Homo sapiens: one gene and its partner. The protein of the gene in region 2 interacts with the protein of the main gene of each other region in a pairwise test. Each region holds a gene or a part of one and is shown on either strand. Other genes may lie near its edges. The genes, in order: SLC41A2 and HHLA2.

Region 1 (8,334 bases), on a different chromosome or scaffold from region 2:
TAAATAACTTAAGGCAATTTTATATGCTAAGTGAAGCTTCCTTGATGTCTCCAAAAGTCACAGAAAATTATTGCCTTTGGTTGGTTAAAGCCCTTTCTTTATTTCAAGAACATATATCTGAGACCCTTACTTCTTAAAACGAAACATGCTTTAGATTTATTTTAAAGTACACCATAAATCTGTATAGAATCCATGAACATATGTGAGGATTTGTGAATAAATGTTTGCCTCTGGCTTGGCTTATATACTCATGTTTTTTTCTTGTATTACTGTAAGTTTCTGTTTTCCTTAATTTGGCATCTAAAAATAATAAAACCACAATGAACTTTTAGCATGTCATCAACACTCACAAATCATATGTATTTACCATTTCCAGAACACAAATTTGCATTAAAACAACTCATTAGATTCCATAAATACTCTATCACTATTTATCAGGAATTACATATATGGCTCCAACTTTATACAGCATTCAGTCTAATTTTTGTGGTGATTTTTTTTTCCCTTTTGTTAACTGCCATGAAGCTACTTATTGGTGTGGGTTTCTGATGGGGAAAAACATTCCATTGGTAAATTTTAAGTACCACTTATAAGCTTATATTCTGAGATGGTTCTATACAGAGAACACTGCAGGTTGACTCCTAGCTGCTGTACACTTACAGGAAAGGACAGAAATCACAAAATATGATAAGCCTGTGTTCAACTTTTTTACTAGTAGTTATATAAACTTGGGTAACATACATAACTTCTATGATCCTTGCTTTTCTCATCTAAAATTAGAGATGATAATCCTTATTTTACAGAGTTTTAAACTCTACGAGAAAAAAGAAAGTGGGAATCATAACACATAGTAGGTATAAAACAAATGATAGTTATCCTAATCAGTCTCAACAGCAGTTCTAATGCAAATGAAGGCTACCATGGATTCATGGCATTGCTGCAACAATATTTATTTAAAGAGACTTGAGACAACACACAATATTTAGTTTTAAATCAACTTACCAAGACAGGAGTATAAGCCCTGACTTATCCAAGCCAATATGGCAAGAGTTATAAGGTCGCCAAAACTAGCAGCAATGGGTGTAGCAACATTATCAGGATTTATACCAGTCTTCTTTGAACCAACGATAACCCCAACCATTATTATTCCTAGAAGAAAGAATGTTCATTACTTTTTAGGCTATGATTTAAAGAAAATCAATCCCCCAAATACCAAAATGTGTAGGATAGAAAAACAGCATATCAATTCCAGTTAGACTGCTTAGATAAGCTGACTAAAGCAAACAAAACATTTACTCTAACGCTTTGGCAAAATGCCTTTCAACAAACTCCAAGTGGGGATCATAGAAAATTTAAGAAGTTCAGCATTGTATTTAGAGGCCTGAAAGCTACTAAAATTATGGTAAAGCTAAAATTTCAGATTTAGTGACATGTATATCTTAGATATAATGTATTTGTGTGTATTGAATCCAAAGGTTTTAATTTTAACCCTCAAATAAAGTATGAAAACATCAAAAAAAAAGGTGAGTCATATGTATATGTACAACAACTGGGAAGAAGGCCAACAAAACCAGATTTGTTTACATATGGCAGCTAGAAATGCTTATTTCATTTTATTACTTAAAGACGTTGAAGTATTAAGCAGCAGGACATAATTAAATTTTAAAACACTGAAGGCCAGAATACAAGAAACAGTCTTTGTAAAAGATATTCTTTAAACCTGAAGTTTCTGTCTATAAACCTACGAGAGAATAGAAGATGAAAATTTAACTGTGTACTTGTACTTTTACATCCTAATTTTCTTAAATTATACAAATGGGATAAAACTATTAACATTTATATCCACTCTAAATTGTGTAGATTTTGTCACACCAAGATACTCATTAAGAGGATGTAGTAAAGAGAAAACTTTAAATGTGCTAACCACAAATCAATATGAAAGCCTAAATATGGCTATGGAGAAAAACAGTAACAGAATCTCACAGCACTTTTAGAGTTAAAATGACTCTAAATGTTTTTGTTCCAGCATACTCACTTTATAGATAATAAAACTGAGGTCCTGTAGAGTAGGGCTTAAATTCTTGCCTAAAGTCACATAGCTTGTGACTCTAGCCCAGTGTTTTTTACTCTACCTATTAAAGCCAAAATTTTAATAAGCAGAATTTTTGTCTTGCATCAAACAGTGCCTTATATTTTAGTATTCTGGAGGCTTTTTAAATTACTAGACTTACCTTTCCCATAATATCATTGAAAAAGAAAAAAAGCTATAGCAGAAAACTTTTTAAAAAAAATACATTATGCAATAATCAGGCAAGATGTAATCGCTTAGAATCTTTTTCCAAAATCAGCACATTTGAAGATGTATATGGGAAGTTCTCCTACACATAGTACCATCTATATCTTTTCAACTGAAAACAAATATTTTGTATGTATCATAGTCCAGTGGAAAGAGCTAAGAGTTAGGAAACGTGTTTTAGTTCTGATTCAGCTGGTAACAAGTTGATGAGATTGGACAAGTCACCTTACCTAAGTTTTCTCACCTACAAATATGGCTAAGAGTTTCTACTTTACATATACTAAAGTGCTTATAAAGGTCAAGTTATCATAAAATTAGAACACACATTATTCAAAGTCAGAAGCTTTAAACAAATACTTTTTAAAATTCTGAATTTTGGATAGTTTTGAAAAGCTTTCAAATACTTGTTAGACTGAAAAATTTTAAATGACACTTTCTAAATGAAATAAAATCAGAAAGAAAAAAGAAGCAAATGAGCCTAAAAAAATAGCATGCTGATGGCATAATTATTTTTGTACCAACAATTTAATTTTCCAATAGCTTAACTTCACTCTGCTTTGGTCAATGTTAACTCCATTCAACTATAGTAATTCTTTATGAAGACAAGAAACTACCCCGATACAATTAAACTACTAAAACAAAATGCTTGAAAATATTTTGGAAATCGAGTTATAATTTTAATAAGATTCCCTAAATTCCCAGAACCTAGCCAAAAAAGTTAGCTGCATTGTATGATCACCTAACATGACAATAATCCACTTTAAACTTTGCTGGTGATATAAGGGCAAGAAAATGGCAATTATAAAATAAAAAGAACAAAGTCTTTATGATTGTGATTCCACAATAAGCTAATTCTCTAGTGTAAAGTTCATACGAATAAATATAAAGAAAAATAACCCAAATAAAAGTTCTAAAGTAGTTAATTTTTAAAACCTTCTGGCTCTTTAAATTCTATAGCCAACAATATGCTATCTTAAGTATAAGGTTATATTTGTATTGCCACAGAAACAGGGAAGAAATTTTTCTTGAAATCTGAAACAAAAAAATTTCAACAGAGGATGACTTTTGAAACCCAGAATTCCTGGAACACTTGTTACTCAAGTGACAAGCTAGTAAATCCCCTGCATGATGTCCAGAAAGGAGTTTCCCAATTTATTTAACTTACAGAAACAAATGAATGTCTAGGCGATTTTCCTGATCTTTTTGAGGAACTATAACGGAGTATCCAAGGCCAGGAGACAACCTCAGAAAAGCCTGTTCTACACTAAGTTTTATAAATAATGAAATGTAAATATATCTGGAATAACTAAGGCATTTTTTAAGTTTGTAGATATGTTTTTTCTGTTGTTTTCATAACAGGTATCATTTAAATAAAAATAGTCATCTTAAGAAATAAACCATTTAAATGTAAAAGGCTATAGAGTAGACATTTATAAATTCACTTACCCTGCAGAAGAGATGCAATGAAGGCAGTTGCCACACTGCTAGAGCACAGAAGTATGGAATGATCAAGGTAATATTTTCCTTCTGGAATCCAGCCCAATATAATTGCTGCCACAGCTGCTAGAAAACCCACTACTGTTGCCTGAACCTAAAATTTTTTTCATAAATCCAACTGAATTATTCACTTTAAAAACACATTTAAACATTTTGATTATGTAAATATTACTACAAAAAGTCAAAAAAAGTATTGCATGTAATAATTGAGCTACATTACCTTTTAGAGTAGTTACTATATTTTGGTTTTAATATTCCCTAAGATGGTGGGTTCTCAAACTGCTCTGATGATCTGGTGACAAGTATGGAACGGAGTCCAGGAATCTGTTTTTAACAAGCACCCCAAGTGATGCTGATGGTATAACTAATAGATCACCTAAGAAAATGCCACCTTCAGACTGAGAAGTACCCAATCCACACATCTGAAGTCTGACTCTAGAGGTAGTGCTGGCAAGAGATTGGATTTTATAATAGAAAGATAGGAGTTTGACTCCTGGTTCTAGCACTTAATCTTGTAGCAAATTATTTAAACTCATTCATTCAAGGAGTATTTATTTAGATTCTACTATGTATAATGTGCTATGTTTTGTGTTGGGCTACAGCAGTGGTCAACGTAGATTATTCCCTGCCCTCACAGAGCTCTTGGTCAGTGGGAGAGACAAACATTTGAAAATAACCTCACAAATAAGCACAATTGTGATTAGTGCTATGAAAATTTCAGTTCCTAATCAGTAAGACCACAATAACCTCAAACTTTGTGATTTAAATTAATTATATAAATATATAAACTGCTTTCCACAGTGCTGACACAAAGCAAGAATAAAAAAAACCTGCCACTAAGAAATAACACTCACCGCTAACTCAGCCTCAGATTAATAGGATGTCAGAACTAAAAGAAACCCTACAAGAATCATCTATTGCACTCACTCTTAGCTGAGTTTGTGTCATGGACTCCTTTGACAATCTGGTAAAAACTCTATAGAATAGAGTTCTCTTTCTCTAGGCAAACACAGAGGCACTCAATATTTTGAGTAGAATTTCTTGATGTTCATGGACTCTCTGAAGCCAATCCACGTGCTGGAATCGAGGGCTCCAAGTAAAAAATTCCTGAAGTAGTCATATAGTAAATCAACAGAAGAGCCAGGACTAAAGAGACCATATATCCTGGACTCCAGCCCCATGATCTTGTATTAATATTACAGCTTCTGTGGATGTCATCCACAGATACAGAGCTGAGATTCAAACCAATAAGCACCATGATGAGTGTAGCAGTTAAAATATTTCAGGATTTTCATTCTGGTTAGTAAATGATGTAATTACACTTTAAAGCAGTAAAATTAATTTATAATATAAATTCTAGCACTATGATTCCAAGTCCTGTCTGGCTTGACATTGGAACACAGAGCTAGAGAACCTACTGCAGACATCATGGTGTGTATATATGTATATATAAATCTGTCAATTTCTGAGAAAATAAAAGCACACAGCTGAGATGAGGAAGTCCTATTCTGGAAATATGCAAAATAATGACTAACTGAAAAATGACTAATTGTACCCAAGAGAAAGCAAAGTCTGGGTTTAAGTAGTAGATGTGAAGGTTAACAGGGGCCATAGGCCTGAAGAGATGTTTGGTACAGGACACGTCCCTCCTGGTGAGGCAACAGTTCCTCATGTGGGACTGGAGACTTTGCTTTATCTGACTACTTATGTATGTATTTGGTCCAGAAGACCATTCTGTACAATCGTGAAGAAATCTGTGACAGGCGATCTGCCTGGGGCTCCATTTAACAGTGAGAAGAGCACAACCCTGAGCAAGTGGGAGTGTGGGCCTCGTCTGTGCTTTCTACCCTTCTCTCTTTCTACCCTCCATGGCCAGTCTCCAGGCAGAGGAGGCTTGTGCCAGCCCATCCTACTCCCCTCCCACACTCATCATCTACTCTTTCACAAGTGTTAGCAGAAGAAGCCTCAGGAAGAAAAAACCCTCTCCCCCAACCATTACCCCCACCGCTCCATCTTCTTTTCTTCTCACTTTTGTCTACTTGTGACTGGGCTTCAACCAATTGCTGCCTCACTGGCTGGTACCAGGTGTGTCCTGAGGGGCCTGGTTGGGGTTCCCTGTTCTTCACACTTTCTTGGTGGAGTAAGGCACATAAAGACACAGGCTTTGGGCTATGGCAACTAGAATCAGTGAATCCCTAGCCATGTCTGACTCCTATCTTGACTGACAGTTGCAGGGAGAGAGGATGATAAAGGAAAAGTGAAGACAAAGAATGGGAGGAAAAATGAAAAGCTGAGATGGAAATTATTAGGATAATTTGACAAATAATTTATACTACAACTCATATTACTTTGTAAGAGTTCAGGGTATTTAAAAATAAATGGAATATATTTTCAAATTTTATATATTATTTATATTATTTTTATATATTATTTATATATATATTTAACAACTCTACTGGTTGTTAAATGTTTTGATTATTACCCCTGCATAGATTTCTACAATTTCAAGCTGAAAAAGATCTTAGACATCTCTAATACAATAATGATATTTAAAAGAGGAAAGAGACTTTCACCACTGTTTTTTTAACATACTACTAGAAGTCCTAGCTAAAGCAATCAGATAAGAGAAAGAAATGAAGGGCATCTAAATTGGAAAGAAAGAAGTCAAATTATCCTTATTTGCAGATGACATAATCTTATATTTGGAAAAACCTAAAGACTCCACCAAAAAACTATCAGAACTGATAAATTCAGTAAAATTGTAGGATACAAAATCAACACACAAGAAGCAGTAGCATTTCTATATGCCAACAGTGAATAATCTGAAAAAGAAATCAAGAAAGTAATCCCATTTACAATAGCTACAAGTAAAATAAGATAGACCTAGAAATAACCAAAGACATGAAAGATCTCTATAATAAAAACTATAAAACAGGCCGGGAGCAGTGGCTCACACCTGTAATCCCAGTACTTCGGGAGGCTGAGGCAGGTGGATCACCTGAGGTCAGGAGCTTGAGACCAGCCTGGCTAACATGGTGAAACCCCATCTCTACTAAAAATGCAAAAATTAGCTGGGCATGGTGGCACACCCCAGTAATCCCAGCTGAGGTGGGAGAATTGCTTGAACTCAGGAGGCGGAGGCTGTAGTGAGCCGAGATCACGCCATTGCACTCTAGCCTGGTAGCCTGGGCAACAGAACAAGACCTCATCTCAAAAAAAAAATAAAATAAAATAAAATAAAATAAAATAAAATATTGATGCAAGAAATTGAAGAGGACACCAAAAAGTGTAAAGATATTCTATGTTCATGGATTAGAATAATCAATATTGTTAAAATGTCCATATAACCCAAAGCAATCTACAGATTCAATGTAATCCCTATCAAAATGCCAATGACATTCTTCACAGAAATAGAAAAAAAAAATCTTAACATTTATGTGGGATCACAAAAAGACTCAGAATAGTCAAAACTATCCTAAGCAAAAAGAACAAAACTGGAGGAATCACATTACCTGACTTCAAATTATGCTACAGAGCTATAGTAACCAAAAGACAGTACTGGCATAAAAACAGACACAAACCAATGGAAGAGAATAGAGAAACCAGAAACAAATCCATATATCTACAGTGAACTCATTTTTGCCAAAAGTGCCAAGAATATACACTGAGGAAAAGACAGTCTTTTTAACAAGTGGTGCTAAGAAAATTGGACATCTACATGCAGAAGAAATGAGACCCCTATCTCTCACCATCTACAAAAATCAAATCAAAATGGATTAAAGACTTGAATCTAAGACCTCAAACTATAAAACTACTACACAAAAACATTAGGGGCACTCTCCAGGACATTGGTATGGGCAAAAATTTATTGAGTAATATCCCACAAGCACAGGCAACCAAAACAAAAATGAACAAATGGGATAATATCAAGTTTAAAACTTTCTGCACAGCAAAGGAAACAATCAACAAAGTAAAGAGACAACCCACAGAATGGGAGAAAATATTTGCAAACTACCCATCTGGCAAAGGATTCATAACCAGAATATATAAGGAGCTTAAACAAATCTATAGGAAAAAAAATCCAATAATCTGATTTTAAAACAGGCAAAAGATCTGAATAGGCATTTCTCAAAAGAAGACATACAAATGGTAGTCAGTCATATGAAAAGGTGCTCAACATCACTGATCATCAGAGAAATGCAAATCAAAACTACAATGAGATATCATCTCACCCCAGTTAAAATGGCTTTTATCCAAAGGACAGGCAATAACAAATGCTGGTGAGGATGTGGAGAAAAGGGAACCCTCGTACACTGTTGGTGGGAATGTAAATTAGTACAAGCACTATGGGGAACAGTTCGGAAGTTCCTCAAAAAACTAAAAATACAGCTACCATATGATCCAAAAATCCTACTGCTGAGTATATAATCCCAAATAAAGGAAATCAGTATGTTGAAGAGATATCTGCACTTCTATGTTTGTTGCAGCACTATTCACAATGGCCAAGATTTGGAAGCAAACTAAGTGACCATCAACAGATG
Region 2 (8,334 bases):
ATGTGTTTTCAGTTGAGAACTGACTTATGCAGACTTCCACTAAAGAAACTAAACTATCATTCTTGAGTAGGATGTAGCACCACCTCCCATAATTTGAACCTAATCCAATCACAAATATCAGTATATTAGGTCAACGGTTGATCTTCGTGGACAGGCTAGACTGCCTGTGGTCTTACTCCATCTGGCCAGCCAAGGGACAGGAACTATCCTGCTTATTAGTACGAATGATCACAGGGCTAGAATTGGTGAAATGCTTGCTCTCCATTGCCCCTAAAACTGTATCTTCAATAATAGTTTCTGCTATAACCCTAATCTCCTAACTTCAGCAGGGGCAATAGCCAAATATCAACCAGAAGGACAGATAAAAGAGACATAGGATCTATCTCAAGTTCCCAGGACACCCAGAGCCTTCTCAGGGGGATAATGGAATAAGGGAGGGCTTCTGGGGGCCTCAACCTGCCTCTACCATTAGCTGGCTTGGTGATATTAAATGATCCACCTAAATCTGTTTCACATGCCTACTTGGCACTTAAGCTAACTTCCTGGATTCCTGTTTCCTGATCTGTAAAATGTGGAGATCAACTAGATCTAAGTTTTGCCCAGATGCTCTCTAGCTCAAAATTCTGGTACTAAAAGCAAAGTACTTTAGGAAAGTATTCCCTAAAAGTACTTCCCATGATCATGGCATCTTAAGATATTTTAAATTACTGGTAAGATTTTTTGCCTAAAATTTAGAAAAAGATTAATTGAACAACAATTAAAATGAAATGACCCATAAGAAAAGAACAATGCAGTTTCAATCAGAGCACCAACCTTGACTAAACTCAGAGCAAGGGAGAACAGGCAGAGCCCAGGGGCTTAAGGAGGTATCTGGCTTCCTTCTGAGGTGTGAGGGTAAGGAAGAACTCATGGTCCTATCACTCCAAAGGCAACATCTTAAAGCTTTGGCTTTTTTCTTTCCAGTTACTTTTCAATGCAGGATGATTAAGTCATCCTGGTTATCATTTTAATACTAGATTAAAATTTTAAAAAGTAAAGTATGATCTTTAATTAATTTCCCAATTATTTATTGAAAATAGTAGGAAACCTAAAGGCAATAGCAGTGTGCTGCAGTGAATATGCTTGTATATAGTTTGGTGTACCTCTGCTCATTTAATGTGAGATAAATTCCTAGAAGTAGAATGGTTAGGTGGAAATGTAGGAGCATTTTAAAAGATTTTGGGTGAATTTTGTGAATGACATTCCAGAAAATTCAGATCAATTACATGCCCAGTAGCTGTTTGGGCATGTATTTCCATGTTATCTTTAATATACGTGATGTGGAACACGTGGGGCAGAGCCCAAATTCTTCTATTACCTCTGCAACATTTTACGCTCCAAATCAGCAGAAAAGCTGCCAAAATCGCAGAGGGCACCAAAATCCATAAGCCTTTGTTATGGGAAGCTGTTTCTTGGCTCGGTTCTAAAAAAAAAAAGGAGAAACAAAGTCTGTGAACTGGAAGAAAAATTACCAGATAAGAAATGTGTGGGTGGGTAAGGGTGGAGTATGTTTACTATTTTAAAAACTAGTTATTTCTGCATTACAGGTAGGAGGCTGAATTCATATGAAAACACTTTGCATAATAAAAACGTCCTTTAGGATAAAGCCAAGAGCCCAGACTGGACAGGAGAGTTTGTCTTGAGCATAAATATCTCCTAGTCTCAGTGTATCTATTGTGGGAAACCTACAGATACCATAATATTATTGGAGATTGGTGGAGGTGGGGGAGCTGGGAGAAAAGTCTGAAAACTGGAGAGGTAATACATCTATTATGCATTTTCAGTTTCTATTGCTTTATACTGTAATAAGAAACAACACATTTTTATAAAGGAATAATTATGTCCATAAATTAGCCTCAGCCCAGTGTTCACCTTGGAGGATGAAGTAAGAGTGCAGTCTGCCATTGGCCTAGAGAAGACAGGGTCCTAAGGGAACAGTGGTAAGTTCAGAGGTGATAAAAGGAGATGAGTAGAAGCCCTGGTCTTGAGTTAGAGGTGGCAGGTGACCACAGAGATAATAGGCACAGTAGTCCCCCGCCTTATCCCTGGGGGATACATTCCAAGTCCCCCAAGTGGATGCCTGAAACCTTAGTACTGAACGCTATGCATACTATACACTAATTTCTTTTTCCATCTTCACAGTTTTATAGGTAGAAGATTCTTTCTTACTGTAGATCTTAGCAACCTCGACATAGGCTCTTTTTTCCTCTTGAGAGCTTTCCCTTAAAGGAAGCACTTCACGGCTTCTTTTTGGTGTATCTGAACTGCCAGCATCACTATTCTTGTGCTTTGAGGCCATTCTTAAATAAAATAAGGGTTACTTGATCACAAGCACTGCGATATCATGACAGTAGATCTGATTACCAGGAGGGCTAACAGGCGGGTAGCATCCACGGTGTGATATGCTGGACAAAGGGAGGATTCACCTTCAAGGCAGGATGGAGCGGGATGACATGCAATTTCATCATGCTACTCAGAATGGCACACAATTTAAAACATTATTTCTGGAATTTTCCTTTTAAAAATTTCAGACAGTGGTTGACTTTGTGTAACAAACTGCAGAAAAGGAGGACCTGCTGATAGTGTTTGGAGCTCCTCAGAAATAACTGGAGGAGCCTAAACTTTCTCCAGCATCTTGGTCAGGACTAGAATTGTTGAAATTAGTATTAATGGAAATGGGGACTCCAGAGACCCTGGGTTACCAAAGTCAGAACCCTGCTAACCTTATGGTCTATGTTCTGCTAAAACGAGGGCAGCAAGCATTAGAGCACAAAGGTCAATTCAGGGGGAAAATGTTTGTGGCTATCCTTTAGAATGAATACCTCTTTTTACATAACAAATGTAATTTTCTATGAACATACTATAGTGTTTTACAACTAATAAAATATTAATCTCTCCACCTATTTGTGTCATTCTGAAATTCCACGCAGGAGTCCGCTTTATCCCTGGTTTAACTTTCTGAGGTTTTAGTTACCCATGGTCAACTGTAGTCCAAACATAACCAAATGGAAAATTCCAGGAATAAATAATTCTTAAGTTTTAAATTGTGTGCCATTCTGAGTAGCATGAAGAAATATCGTGTCACGCCACTGCATCCCACCTGGGACGTGACTGCGCCCTTTGTCCGGCATATCCACGTTGTACACACTACCCCCATGAATCATTTACTAGCCATCTCAGTTATCAGACTGACTGTCATGGTATAACAATGCTTGTGTTCAAGTAACCCTTATTTTCTTTAAGAATGGTCCCAAAGCACAAGAGTAGTGATGCTGGCAATTTGGATATACCAAAAAGAAGCCATAAAGTGCTTCTTTGAACTAAAACAATTAAAGCCCTTGACTTATGAAAAATCATATATTGAGGTTGCTGAGATCTATGGTGAAAATGAATCTTCTATCTGTAAAATTGTGAAGAAAGAAAGAAGAAAATTTGTGTTAGTTTTGCAGTCACATCTCAAACTACAACAGTTATGGCCACAGTGTGTTGTATATGCTGAGTTAAGATGGAAATGGCATTAAATTTGAGGGTGGAAGACATAACAGAAATGTGTTCTGGTTGATGATATGTTGCACTGGAAAGCTTTGGGCTTATATGAAGACTTCAGCAAGAGATCCCTTGAAACAGGCCATTTATTGCAAGTAGAGGATAGAGGATGGCTACACAGATTTAGAAATCAGCTTGGACTGAAAAATATAAAAATTACTGGAGAGGCTGTGTCTGCTGATGAAGAAGCTACAGCCACATTTCCATCTAAAGCAAATCTTTAATTGCAATGAAAGCAAGCTCTGCTGGAAGAAGATGCCCAATAGAACCTGTATTCATAGAAGTGTGAATGAGGCACCAAGGCATAAACATGGAAGGACAGATTAATCCTCGTACCATGTGGGAATGCATATATAGGGTTTAGTACTGTCCATAGTTTCAGGCATCCACTGGGGGTCTTGGAACATATCCCCCAAGGAAAGGGGGGACTACTGTACCTATATAAAGGAGAGATTAAGTAGGAATGTTAGGTTGACTTTCTACAGGGTTTTCATATGCATTTTTCTTCCTCCTAAAGGAAATCCTACAAGGTATAGCTACTTCTCACTGTACTCGTGACCCTCAGGTTCCCCCATCTGTAAGGATATTTGCCCAAGGTCACATATTGATTCAGCAGCAGAACTTAGCAAGGATTATTTAATTCCATTCAGCTTGGTGCAACCTTAATTGAGCAGATCTAGATTCGAGGAATCATAAGTACCCCCCATCTTGTTGTAGCACCTCCTGGGAAAGGCAACAAATGGAAAAGTCATCCTTGAAAGGATGATATTTAAGGTACCAAGACTGTTTGCCCTGTTCCCTGGCCTGCTGGGGTGGCTCCTGCCAAGTCCTCTTCCTCGTGGGGAAGGGTGAGCACACCCTCCCCCAGCCCCACCTGGCCAACATTTATTTGAGAATGAGAGGTTCTGAAAATACTCTTTTGTCAGAGATGGAATGGTCCTGATGTTTCACTTTGTGTGAACTGAAAATTAGATCTCTGGGTGGGAAGACGGGCCATATGTAGTCTTTAGGACATTTCTTCTTGACTATTTTTTTTTTTACACTCCAAAATTAATCCAACATGAGGCAACATTTTTAAAAATAGATTGCAGGCTTAACTGTATTTTACATAAAACTGACACTTTTATTTTTGGAGAAAAATAGGAGCTTCAAATGCAGCCCCAGTTTTTCATTCTCTACTCTCAAAGTGGCAGCTCTACAAAGGGAGTGTTATTACTCAATGTCCAGAAGCTTCCAAGTATTTGAAGATCACATAACCTAAAGGACAACTCTGTGCTCTTGTCTCCAAATCTCACTACGTAGAATCACCAAAACTTCAAATGTTATTCCTCCTAATTTTCACAATTGAAATGATAGAAATATTTCTAAAACATAAGTTCCACTGGTTCAAATACCTTTATTGAAGGACAGAAAGAGCTGCCATGGTCTGCCATGATGTGAAGTTGATAGTTTAAGGGTGGGACCATCCAGCTCACCTAGAAGGTCAGCTTCATGAGTATATATTCCATGACTTGATGGTTAGTTGACTAGAAATATTTTAGATAATGGTTTTTGGCAGTGAACTATCAACAGAGGTAAAAATGAACTGAACTAGGAATATATACTTGGTGCTTCAAATATTGTGTGGTGACTATTTCCAAGTTCATAGACACTGTCATGATTTCCCAGCATTCTTCAGGACCCCGATTGTAACTTCCTAATGTGTCTCTAGCCTTGAATCCCCAAACCCTAGGCCTAAGGTATATATTAGGCACAGCAGTGAGCAGAAATGGAAGATGCTCAGCGCATGGAGTCATCAAAATGTGTTTCCTCCTCATTTCTGAAGCCCCAAAATCCTGAAAGGAAATCTGTGGGAGTAATTTTTTTTTTCAAAACAGGACTTTTGTGTGGTTGAAGGAGGGAGGGTAATCGACATCCTGACCAGAAATATCCCTGTGGATTATATTTTGAGAGGGTATCAATGTATTCTTGAAAAGTCAACCTAATTTTCTCTTTGATATTCACAAACCTCTAATGCTACAGCCAAAACCCATTATCCAAACCTACTTGCAACTTACCTACATGCACTGTGTGGATGGTAAGTAAAGTATATTCATCCGAAGAAATATTGCATAAATATTCCCCACTGTCTGAAAGATTAAGATCCATCAAATTCATAGAGAAGTCACTCTGGTTTATCAGCTCTTTGTTCCATGAGAATCGGGATTCATTGATAATTGTATTTTGTGAGGAGCTCAGATAGTAAGCCAGGACAGAGAAAGTCCCACTTTTCATTCTGGACCAAGTAACTTTGAAGTCTTGGTTTGGTGAAAAATAATCATTTACAGGTTGACATGAGAGTGAAACGTGTTCACTTTGCATTTTATGAAGGCCATCTAACAACACAATAGAAAAGAAAACATCAATGAAGATAAACATTTCAAAAGAATTCTCTAAGTTACACTTAGAAAGCAGAGAACAAAGGCACTAATACTGATATATTTGGAAATAACTTTTTGGAAAGTAATTATATTTGTACTGTGGTTTCTTAAAAGACAAGTTTTACTACCACTATTTTAAAGTTTCCCACCAAGGTTAGTTTAGACCTTCAAGGAGGGCTAAGCCAGGGCCAGCTAGAGGGGTGATATACTTGTTTTAACTCTTAGAACCTGACAGTAAGCACTCAGGAATGTTGCTACCAGTTACTAGCCTATTAAACTCAATGTTCTCCTTCTCTTGGCCCCTCTAATGCTGGTGGTCCCCAGAACACCCCTTTTGGTACCCTACCTACTCCCTAGTGGTCTCTAACTTTTATGGCCTCACTACTTCTTAATCTCTTTTTCTAGACAAAATCTCTTTTTCTTCATATAAGAATATTTCCAGCTGTGTGCAGGCAACCCCCACTGGACTGAGCTCTTTTAAAGAGAGACTGCTGAATTTTCTTGGCTTGCCCCTCCAGACCCAGCTCCATCTTGTCCTTCCCGTTCTGTAGTGTTGTAGGCTGACCTCTATGGACTGTCATGGACTGTTCCCCCTGGCTCTAGACTCACCTGGCTTCCAGTCTACCTGCAGGAGAGTGATGCCAAAGTAAGCCCTCCAAAAGGCAAATCCAGGGCCTCTCTGATGGTTCAAATCCCTCTTCTGATCTATCCTACCTCCAAGACTCAACAAGCTCCTTAGCAACGTGTAAAAGGTCTTTCATCTGTTTTTGGCCTCCCTCTCCAGGTTCATCTCTTGATCCATTGATTCCACAAATCCAGGCAATTTTACTTTTCTGTGCTTTTTACCTGGAATATTCTTCTTCTCCTGGAATGTCCTACTACTCTTCTAAAATTCTACCCTTATGCAACTTTCTTAAGCACATATTCTGTGACAACCCCATTCATGTCCAACCACAGAGAATAGAATTAATCACTCCCTTTGTAAGCTATGTTCCTAGTTTAATTTTTATATTTGTACTAGATGCTGTGGATCCAGAAATCAGTAGAGACCATGTTCTTAAGTTCACAGTCTGTGAGCAACAAAACTTGGCACGTAATAGCTTTTCAATGAGACCAAACAGTACTGAGCCTAAAGAACTGTTCATGCTTCAAGACACTCAATTCTAAATGAACATGAGAAATTAGGATTTTCCAAAGGCAATATTTATAATATTAACATTTGCAACCCTTTCCCATGTTTCCATTGCTGCCTGACTGATGGAGAATGAACATTGGGTACTCATGCCTTTAACACTGGACTCATGTAAATGTGGTGAATCACCCACAATTTCAGTATATTTTTGGTGAGCATTTTGAGAATATGAGATGCTAGGAAAGAGAAGACTGAAAAAAAAAGATAACCTCCATTTTCCCCCTATAAGGGAGACTGACAGAAAATTTTTGCTTTGTTACTAATAAAATGAAAAACAGGCTGGGCACGGTGGCTCACGCCTGTAATCCTAGCACTTTGGGAGGCCGATATGGGTGGATCACGAGGTCAGAAGTTCGAGACCAGCCTGACCAACATGGTGAAACCCTGTCTCTACTAAAAAAATACAAAAATTAGCCACATGTGGTGGCATGTGCCTGTAATCCCAGCTACTCAGGAGGCTGAGACAGGAGAATCACTTGAAACTGGGAGGTGGAGGTTGCATTGAGCTGAGATCATGCCACTGTACTCCAGCCTGGGCGACAGAGGGAGACTCCATCTCAAAAAAAAAAAAAAAAAAGGAAAACAAATTTTCTTGGACTTGGATATGGAGATAGCAAATTACTTTTTATTAAACAGGTTTTGGATATAGAGATTGATCAGAGTTTGGATCTGTTCAAATAAATGAGAGGAACGAGCGCTAAAAACTGACCATGTTGTGATAGAGGTGTTGGATAAAGATTGATGGGCTAATACTATGTAAAGAAACTAAAAAGAAGCAATAATACTCATTAATATTTTGTTTAATTGTAAGATTGGAAGTTGTGATCTGCTGAAAGACAAGTATTCTTTCTCCTTTGATCTTTTAAAGAGCAATGCTGGTAGAAAATCCTGTTTGAAGGATGAGCCATTGACAAATACATTAATATTCAAGAATAGATTTGCTTCTTTCCACTTCATGAATGTTTTCACTCAACTCATAAATACATAGCAAGGTAAGAATTACTTCTATTTTATCAATGAGGTACTAATGCTCAAAAGTAAGAATGATTGCTTAATGTAATACAGCCAGAAGAACCAGCCCTAGGGCTTCGGTCTTGGTCTTCTAACCGCTGCAGATGGATTTGCTTTCTTTTCTTT

The links.
Region 1: the proteins of HHLA2 (region 2) and SLC41A2 interact in binary tests that used the Homo sapiens proteins (3 or more experiments, as listed by UniProt).

Annotation. Positions count from the first base shown.
Region 1 is NC_000012.12:104,885,291-104,893,624, forward strand, and holds part of SLC41A2 (solute carrier family 41 member 2), read right to left. Parts: intron 3,888-8,334; coding exon 3,743-3,887; intron 1,150-3,742; coding exon 1,003-1,149; intron 1-1,002. UniProt on the Homo sapiens protein: Acts as a plasma-membrane magnesium transporter. Can also mediate the transport of other divalent metal cations in an order of Ba(2+) > Ni(2+) > Co(2+) > Fe(2+) > Mn(2+).
Region 2 is NC_000003.12:108,355,470-108,363,803, reverse strand, and holds part of HHLA2 (HERV-H LTR-associating protein 2 isoform a precursor), read right to left. Parts: intron 5,961-8,334; coding exon 5,643-5,960; intron 1,463-5,642; coding exon 1,358-1,462; intron 1-1,357. UniProt on the Homo sapiens protein: Through interaction with TMIGD2, costimulates T-cells in the context of TCR-mediated activation. Enhances T-cell proliferation and cytokine production via an AKT-dependent signaling cascade.